Linked DNA regions of Homo sapiens: region 2 is linked to region 1. A link means that fine-mapping ties the variant in region 1 to the expression of a gene that starts in the linked region. Tissue or cell type: unexposed skin. Region 1 holds a variant in brackets; the other region holds the start of a gene. All regions are shown on one strand. Distances are from middle to middle.

Region 1 (4,251 bases):
TGAGTACACAGTTTACTAAACACAGCTCCAGGATTTAGAACAGCCAAAGGCTTGTTTATTATTTGCTACAGTATTATTTGGTAAAAATTGTCTTTGGAATCCTAGGCAGGATATAGAAAGTAGCATTTAGTTATAATCTAGGCCCTAACTGCATTGTCCAACTTGATAGCCACTAGTCACACATGGCTATTTAAATTTTAATTAATGAAAATTAAAAATTCAGTTCCTCTGTTGTACTTGACAATTTCAAGTAACTACATACTGGCAATGCAGATATAGAGCATTCTGCCACCTCACGTACTTATGTTGTTCATCACTACTAGAGTGTTCTTGTCACAGTTCTAAAATGTATTTGACTACACGGATAGTCTCTGTTGAAATTTTTAAAATATCTCTCTAAAAATTAGTCTATTAGTTTTCTGTGGTTACTGTAATGAATTACCACAAATTTAGTGGCTTAAAACAGCAAATTTGTTATTTGCAGTTCTGTAGTTGAGAAAACTGAAAGGGATCTCACTGGGCTATAATTAAAATGTCCACAAGCCTATGTACTTCTCTGGAGGCTCCATTCCTTGTCCTGGTACATTCTAGAGGGATCTATATCCCTTGGCTCATGGCCATCTTCCTCCGTCTTCAAAGCCAGCAAGTATGGGCCAAATGCTTTTCACAAAGCCATTTCTCTGGTTCACTCTCTTTACCTCCTTCTGACATTTATAAGGACACTTGTGATAACATTGGGCTCATTCAGATAATCCAAGATAATCACATCTCAAGATCAATTGATGAACAATCTTAATTCCCATCGTGCCATGTAATATAACATATCTCTGAGTTTGAAGAATAAAGACATGTATATATTTGGCAGAGGGAGGTTATTATTCTACCTACCATCATGAGTAAATATTTTATGAAGTACATTGATTTTCCTTGTAGAAAGAGGCTATGTAAATATATTGCAGATAATTATTCACATATTTCTGAATTTAACAAAAGTTCTGATTATATGTAATGAAATTAATTAATAAAAATAAGATATTAATAGTTTGCTTAATATGCACCAGACAGTAAGGGCTAAGATTTTAAGAGCTTATATGCATGAACTCATGATTGAGTAAAGAGAGACATTAATAACACCTTAAGTAGGAGTGTGGGATAAATGAAGACATGGAATCTTAATTGGGAAAATGGGGTTCTCTTCCTGGCATAGCCACTTACTCACCTGTGCAATTTCTAAGGATTTAAATTTTTCAGGTAGATAAAAGGAGAACAGATTAAAATTATCTCTAAGGTCTCCTCCGACACTTAAATTTTTCCACTATTAATTAAGTTAGCAGAAAGATAAGATTATGCAAAAGCACAATATCGAGTAATACAGAATTGCTGTGTATTACTGGAAAATTAAACAAGATAATATGACTTGGAAGACTAAAGAAAGATTATTTAATCAGGTATAGCAGAGCATGATTTTTTTTTTTTTGTTACAAGACATACTATGGCTTAAGAGACTGGATAGTAAAGAAACTGAATAAAAATAGTCAAACCGAGCCCAGAAACTGATGGCATACACTTTGCTTTATTAAGGATTGAGATTGAAGGAGGAATACGAAGGGAACATTGTATTTCCAGTTGGGTTAAACTGACATTAATTATTAGTCGTACACATGATTAAGCAAATTTTTATCCCCCTGCTTTATTGTAGTCAGGTGTTTAGGGAAAAAGGAGAATATTACTGCCATTAGAAGAGCTACATCTCTGTCAAAAGCTATCAGACCATACCCAAATAAACCTTTACACCCAACAAGGTTGATAAACAACTGAGACTCTTTTTGTGGTAGACATTAGCATGTGCGTTATGCGGTAACTCAAAGAGTGAGACAAAGGAATTTTCTCAATAAAATTAGGTAATTTCATTCTATTTTAAATGAAATAGACCTCAGGTTTAGGAACTCTAAGGATCCACAACTTTCAGATCAAGGTGTGTTAAAATAATTTATTTTCCCTAAAAGGGTATTAATTCTAAGACTTATTCAGATTCTTAGAAATATTTGGGCCAATGGCACTGTAAGTATGTTAACAAATTACCCATTTTGAGTGCCTTAAAGTACTTTAAGT[G/A]TATGCACTATTACTCAAAAACTATGGATAAAATTTTATATAATACCAGTAGGATATTTTCCCTTATAGGGATTGAATACTATGTAGCTAAAACAATTATCAGTCTATCATCTATCTATCTATCTATCTATCTATCTATCTATCTATCTATCTATCTATCAATCATCTTTCTATAAATCTACTGATCTTTCATCTTTCTATGATATTCTGCCTAATGTTCAGCAGCCCATTGTGCATGCCACACTTACTAAAATCTTATCATAACGTGGAGTTCTTTCTCTGATAATGAAAAAGAAAAGTATGCTGTCCCTCCTTGAAATTCTATGATTTTTCACTCTCTATTACACACATTTACTCATTCAATCATTTATTAATCTTTCATATTCTTCAAAGGTGTATTATTTGCAAGGCACTGGAAATACTGTGATAAAAGGCACATACTTCAATGGGGTGAGGGGTAACATGCAGCTGACAGAAACATTGTCACAGAACCATGTAAATTTTATGAAAATTTTAGGTAAAGAGTATTATGGAATCAGGGTAGAGTGGCATCTAAAATTTGAGACAAGGAGGAGGGGCTAGAGTTGCCATTAAAAAGATATTGCTTAAAGTGGAATCTTGAAGAACATGAATGAATCATTCATGATTTCTTCCATTCATTCATTTATTGCTACTCTGCCAAAATGATGCAAAAACAAAGCCATTCCTGTGCTCAAGTAATTAAAAATCTATTTGAGAAATAACTTGTAGCAAACTGGAGTACAGAGTGATTGTTGTTAGGATAAAACTATACGTGTGTGTTTAGCACAATGAGGGAAGTTGTAGTGGGCTAGCAGAAGGATGTACTCAGATTAGGGAGAGCAATATCAGATAAGAGGAAAAGTATTTGAGAAGTGGAAGGATAAGAAATTTGACTGGAGTATATGCTATATCAGGTAGGGAGCCATGGAATATGAAGCTGCAAAATGGAATAAAGAGACTGAGAAGGGCCCACTATGCTAAAGACTTTGAGCTTCATCTCTTAGGTTGTGTGCAAGCACTGAATGATTTGTGGACAAGCACTGGACAATTTTTTGTGTGTGCTCCTCTACATCCATTCTGCAACATTTTCCACTCAGTCTGTTCCCCAGCAACTGAATCTTTCCACTTGCATTCATAGTCTCTCTTGCTCTCTGGCTTTGGCCAAAGAGAAGCACCTTTAGAAAGTCAGAGCACAGGAGAAAAGTGAAACTGGAATGGTAGATGTTGTTGGTAACCACCACGTCATCTTCTTTGTTAGGAGGGTAACCCATCTCCCAGGTGCTACAGGTATTGGTTACTAGCAAATTGCATTGTTAGCAGCAATGAGGAAAGCCCTTGGCTAGTGAGAGCCATGTGACTTAGAGATGCCTGGGAAGGTATGCAGCTTTCCTCTTCACCAGTGGCTGGTAAGCGGTGGTTGACCTATGCAATGGTGGAACAGCCTTGCCCCCTTGCATCTAGGCAGTAGAATCTCTGGAAACAATTTGTACTCCAGAGCTCGTTGTGGGTTCAGTCTAAAGATGAATTCTTTTATTTTTCTTTTCTTTTCTTTTTATTCTTTTCTTTCCTTTTCTTTTTTCTTTTTTTTTTTTTTTGTTTGTTGTGTTTGTTTGCTTTTGAGATGGAGTTTTGCTCTGTTGCCCTGGCTAGAGTGCAGTGGCACGATCTTAACTCACTGCAACCTATGGCTCCCAGGTTCAAGCGATTCTCCTGCCACAGCCTCCCTAGTAGCTGAGATTACAGGCACCCGCCACCATGCCCAGCTAATTTTTGTATTTTTAGTAGGGACGGAGTTTCACCACGTTGGCCAGGCTGGTCTCGAACTCTTGACCTCAGGTGATCCTCTCGCCTCTGCCTCCCAAAGTGCTAGGATTACAGATGTGAGCCACTGCACCTGGCCCTGAGGATGAATTCTTCTGAAATCACATCTTCATCTAGCTTCTTCCTTTGTACTCTTCTGCTACTCTTGCCTCTTTAAAGGTTTATCCTGGCTGGGTGCAGTGGCTCACGCCTGTAATCCCAGCACTTTGAGAGGCCGAAACGGGTGGATCATGAGGTCAGGAGATCAAGACCATCCTGGCCAACATGGTGAAACCCTGTCTCTACTAAAATACAAAA
Region 2 (4,251 bases), 55 kb after region 1:
TTGGAATTGGTTTGCTCTCCCAGATCAGCAGAGTAAATCTTAATAGCATTTCAGATTTTAGGGCACAGGGAAAGATTCTCTGTGACTCACCAAAGCAGCATGTTTGTATTCCGTGGGCAATGACATTCTTTGAATGAGCACTTAAAAAACAGGTATTTTTTTTCCAACTGTTAAACAAAATAAGTAAAATAAAAGCATCTGTAATGTACCTCGCAGATAGTTATAACGATCGCTAATGTGTACAGTAATCACCCCTTCTCCTTGAGGAATATGTTCAAAGACCCTCAGTGGATGTCAGAAACGAAGGACAGTACTGGATCCTACACACACTATACGCAACAGTAGGTCAGATCACCGAGGCAGCTATTAAGTGACTAAGGGGTGGGTAGTGCATACAATGTGGAAATGCTGGCCAAAGGGATGATTCATATCCCATGTGAAGTGGGATGGCTTGAGATTTCATCACGCTATTCAGAACAGTGTTCAATTTACCACTGATGAATTGTTTATCTATGAAATTTCCCATGTAATTTTTGCAGACCATGATTAACCACTGGTAACTGAAGCCTCAAAAGGGAAATTCTGGATAGCAGGGGTGGTACTGTAGACCCTATGTATAGAAATAATTAAGCTTATATTCCACCTATGGTTTTCCATGCAGCTTTTACATTTAAATTTACGTTTTATATACTTGAATAAAATGAATTAAAATTAGAAAAAACAAAGTTTAGCCACAAAAAGTTTATTATTGTAATATATTTTGAAAAATGGTTTATCAATACTGATTTTAGCCTTTTATACTGTATATTATGATCAAATAATTTTCAAATGGAAAAAAGTAATCCTTTTATAAGCTGTTGGTAAAATAAGAATCTTAGTAGCTGATTCATGCCAGAGTAATTACCTCTTTCTGGCCTTTTCTCTGCTCCTTTCTTTCTCTCCCTCCCAATTTCTTTCTCTCACTCTGTCTCCCCTTTGACATTCTCTCCTACATTAAGAATCACCACTTTGTTTTTACTGTTCTCATTCAAAATTTTTATTTTAGTATATAGAAGTCTACCTGATGAAGAGAAAATGTTGATATATGTGCTTTTTAAAGCATATTAAAGAGTATTGGTTATGGAATTTGTAGACCCATTAAGGATACCTATTCAGATACAGATAAAATTCCAGTTGCCCCAGTTACATATTAAAAACTTTTTTTTACAAAAAAGAAACACACTTTCTTCCTAATATAACAGTTTTTTTTTCTTCATTAGACGCGTTTTCAAACATTGGTCCATGAGGGAAAAGTAATAATATAGGAAATTCTTAGTCATGTTAATATTTTCCATTTAGCTATTACTGACAGATGCTATTCTAAGCGACTTACAGGCACAATATCTTTTATTCCTCATATGAAGAACAAGCATTATATAAAGAAAATATTAATACATGCATTTTCAGAAACTACAGCCCAAGGGCTCTCAGACCATAAATTCAGAGCAAGAATTTCCACCCAGAGCTGTCTGCATTAAAATGCACACTTGTTCCCACTCTACGATGCTGAAAGGTTAGGAGCCTTGGCTGTCCCTACTGCCCAGGTGCTACAAGTCCTTCATGGGGCTGTTCTACGCAACACTTTGGAATGCAGACTCCCTTGAGCGAGCACTTGTTTAGCATAGTTTCACCAGTGGCCTGTCTGTCTAAAGTAGTCGGCGAATATTAAAATAGTCCTAACAATAAAATAACACTCAGTCAACCGTGTAGCCTTCTTCCGAGTGGGGAGGAGAATAGCTCACTCTCCCTAGAGGGCCTAAGAAAGATCAGTTTACAGGTTCCAGCATGGGGTGGGACCCTTCCTCCTTCCCCCGTCTTGGCACTGGCACTTGGTCTGGTGACCACCACTAGCCCACAGTTGGGTCAGAAAACGTTACAGAACTCCTCTCTCCCCCACCCGAAACACACTCAGCCCTTGCACTGACCTGCCTTCTGATTGGAGGCTGGTTGCTTCGGATAATGACCTCCAGGACCCCACTGTTGGTTACAGCCTGTTTGTATTATTCTTACTGCAACTCAAGACACCTGCAGCAGGGCGTGAGAAAAAGTAAAAGACCAGTATTTTCACATTGCCAGGTACCAGAAACACAGAAGACTGACACCCGCCACTTAAGTGGGGCCAGGGCTGGTGTCTGCCCATGTTGCCATCCTGATGGGCTGCTTGCCACAATGAGGGATCTTCTTCAATACATCGCTTGCTTCTTTGCCTTTTTCTCTGCTGGGTTTTTGATTGTGGCCACCTGGACTGACTGTTGGATGGTGAATGCTGATGACTCTCTGGAGGTAAGAAGATAGCAGCTTCTTTTCATGATCCAGGCCAGCCCAAATTTTCGCTAAGTCCCAACTGCCATGTACAACATTCAGTATCTTTACTAAGGCTAATGATACCAAAAATAGGCAACATGGACTATTTATTGAGTCTTTACATTATTAGCTCATTTAATCCTCATAGTTAATTTATGAGGTAGGTCTTGTTATCCCATTAAACAGATGAAGTTACTAAATAGTTCCTCCTTTTTTCACAAGGATAAATTTCCACAAGGGTAATTAAGTGATCTCTGCTACTGAGACCTCCAGAAATTCACGTCTTCCATTGCTGCATATATCATATTGAGTAACATTTCAGTACCACCCTTTTTTCTAAGATAAATTTTTTACTCTTGATGACAGCATTAAGAATAGTGTGATAGACTTTTTTTAAGGAGTGTTAATAATCTAAAACGTTGAGAAAGAAAATGCAAGGCATGCAAAACCTACCCAATTAACATGCAAGAGGAAAAAACATTATCTTAATGATTTCCAAGTAAAAGAAAAAATGTTGAGGGAGAAAATGTCTTTCCAGTGCATCCCAATGTACGGGGGACAGGCATGGATTTAAATCCTCCCTTAAAATGAGTTGCTCTAGGGAACTGACTACTATTCAAAAGATGAGTGAGTGGGTTCACATTTGAGGATTTTATTTTTCTCGCTGGAGAAGCTCAGAAAGAAGTAATTTTGAAGTTCAAAACCATTACCTGTGGCCATAGGAATCTGAGAGAGGCAGAACTGAGTAAAAAATCAAATCTTCAGAATTAGCTGCTGTTCATTAATGAGGCTTAGGAAAACACAGGTAAGAAAAAGAAACAATATTTCAAGAGCTCAAAAAAAGGAGTATATAGCAAAACAATTTGCTTTTTAATGTGCATCCTGAAGGGAACAATTTACCCTAGCAAATGCTATAATGTCACCTCTATAAAGTTTAAGAAAGATACTCGACTGAGTTTATATATTTTTCTTCTAATTTTCTTTATTAAACTCTCAAATTGGAGTTCCAAATGGAAAGTAATAATGATTCTATTTTGCTGTGCATTATTTTTGCTGCTCGCTTTTTCTTGCTTTTAATTTGCCTCTGACTTGAACATGGCATTTCAAAACCAATGGAGTTAGGAATACCTCTTTAATGCTAGAAAATTACATTTCCAAAAATTGTGATAGAATTGAACTACTGTAAAGGATGTCTGCTATAAGTGAGCCCAGTGATGCATTTTATCTGGCCATGAATATATGCAAAGAATGAAATAAATGCCCTTTGAACAGTGCTCAGGGAAAAGTGCAGATAAAACGTTCTGCTGTCATTAGTTTGCCATTATCTAGATGGCCAGTGGTAGGTGATGAATACAGAAATATGTTTAACTTGAGCATAATTATAATTATGTTTTTTAAAATACAAAAAAATGTAAAATCCCATCTAGGGGCATTGTTAAAATATTTTCTAAAACAATTTAAAAGTCTTTCTGCTTAAGCTGACATAATTGCTAACTTCATTTGATAAGAAATAGTTTTAGAAAGGGTCAAACCTTGCTGAGAGAGAGATTGAGAGTCCTGGAATTTAAAGTGTCTTCTTTCATTTTAGTATAACCAACCAATTTGCCATCTGTCCCATGAAAGAATACTTCTAGTTAAAACGAATGGAATGAGCAGTCCAGGTTACACACCTCAAGTAAACCCTTGCTAACCTTGAAAAATAGTTAATATTTCTTAGCTTCCTTCTTATTTCCCATACTTAAAATGTATTGCTATAATATTCCCAAGAAGCCTTCACATTTAAAGGAAGAGGCTGGGCATGGTGGCTTATGCCTGTAATCCCAATACTTTGGAAGGCCGAGGCGGGCAGATCACAGGTCAAGAGATTGAGACCATCCTGGCCGACATAGTGAAACCCCATCTCTAACA

Evidence for each region. PIP is the estimated chance that this variant, and not a neighbour inherited with it, causes the effect.
Region 2: CLDN16 starts here. The variant in region 1 is the best candidate, but not a certain one, in a credible set for the expression of CLDN16 in unexposed skin (GTEx, PIP 0.59).

The regions. Positions count from the first base shown.
Region 1 is chr3:190,331,311-190,335,561 of GRCh38, forward strand. It overlaps a transcript of CLDN16 not described here. Among named protein-coding and RNA genes, the nearest start is that of CLDN1, 11 kb to the left of the region's middle. The variant G/A (reference allele first, on the strand shown) is at 2,113.
Region 2 is chr3:190,386,122-190,390,372 of GRCh38, forward strand. CLDN16 (claudin 16) reads left to right here and starts at 2,042. Exons shown (of 5, transcript NM_006580.4): 1 at 2,042-2,322. The coding sequence starts at 2,209. RefSeq lists an enhancer at 299-593.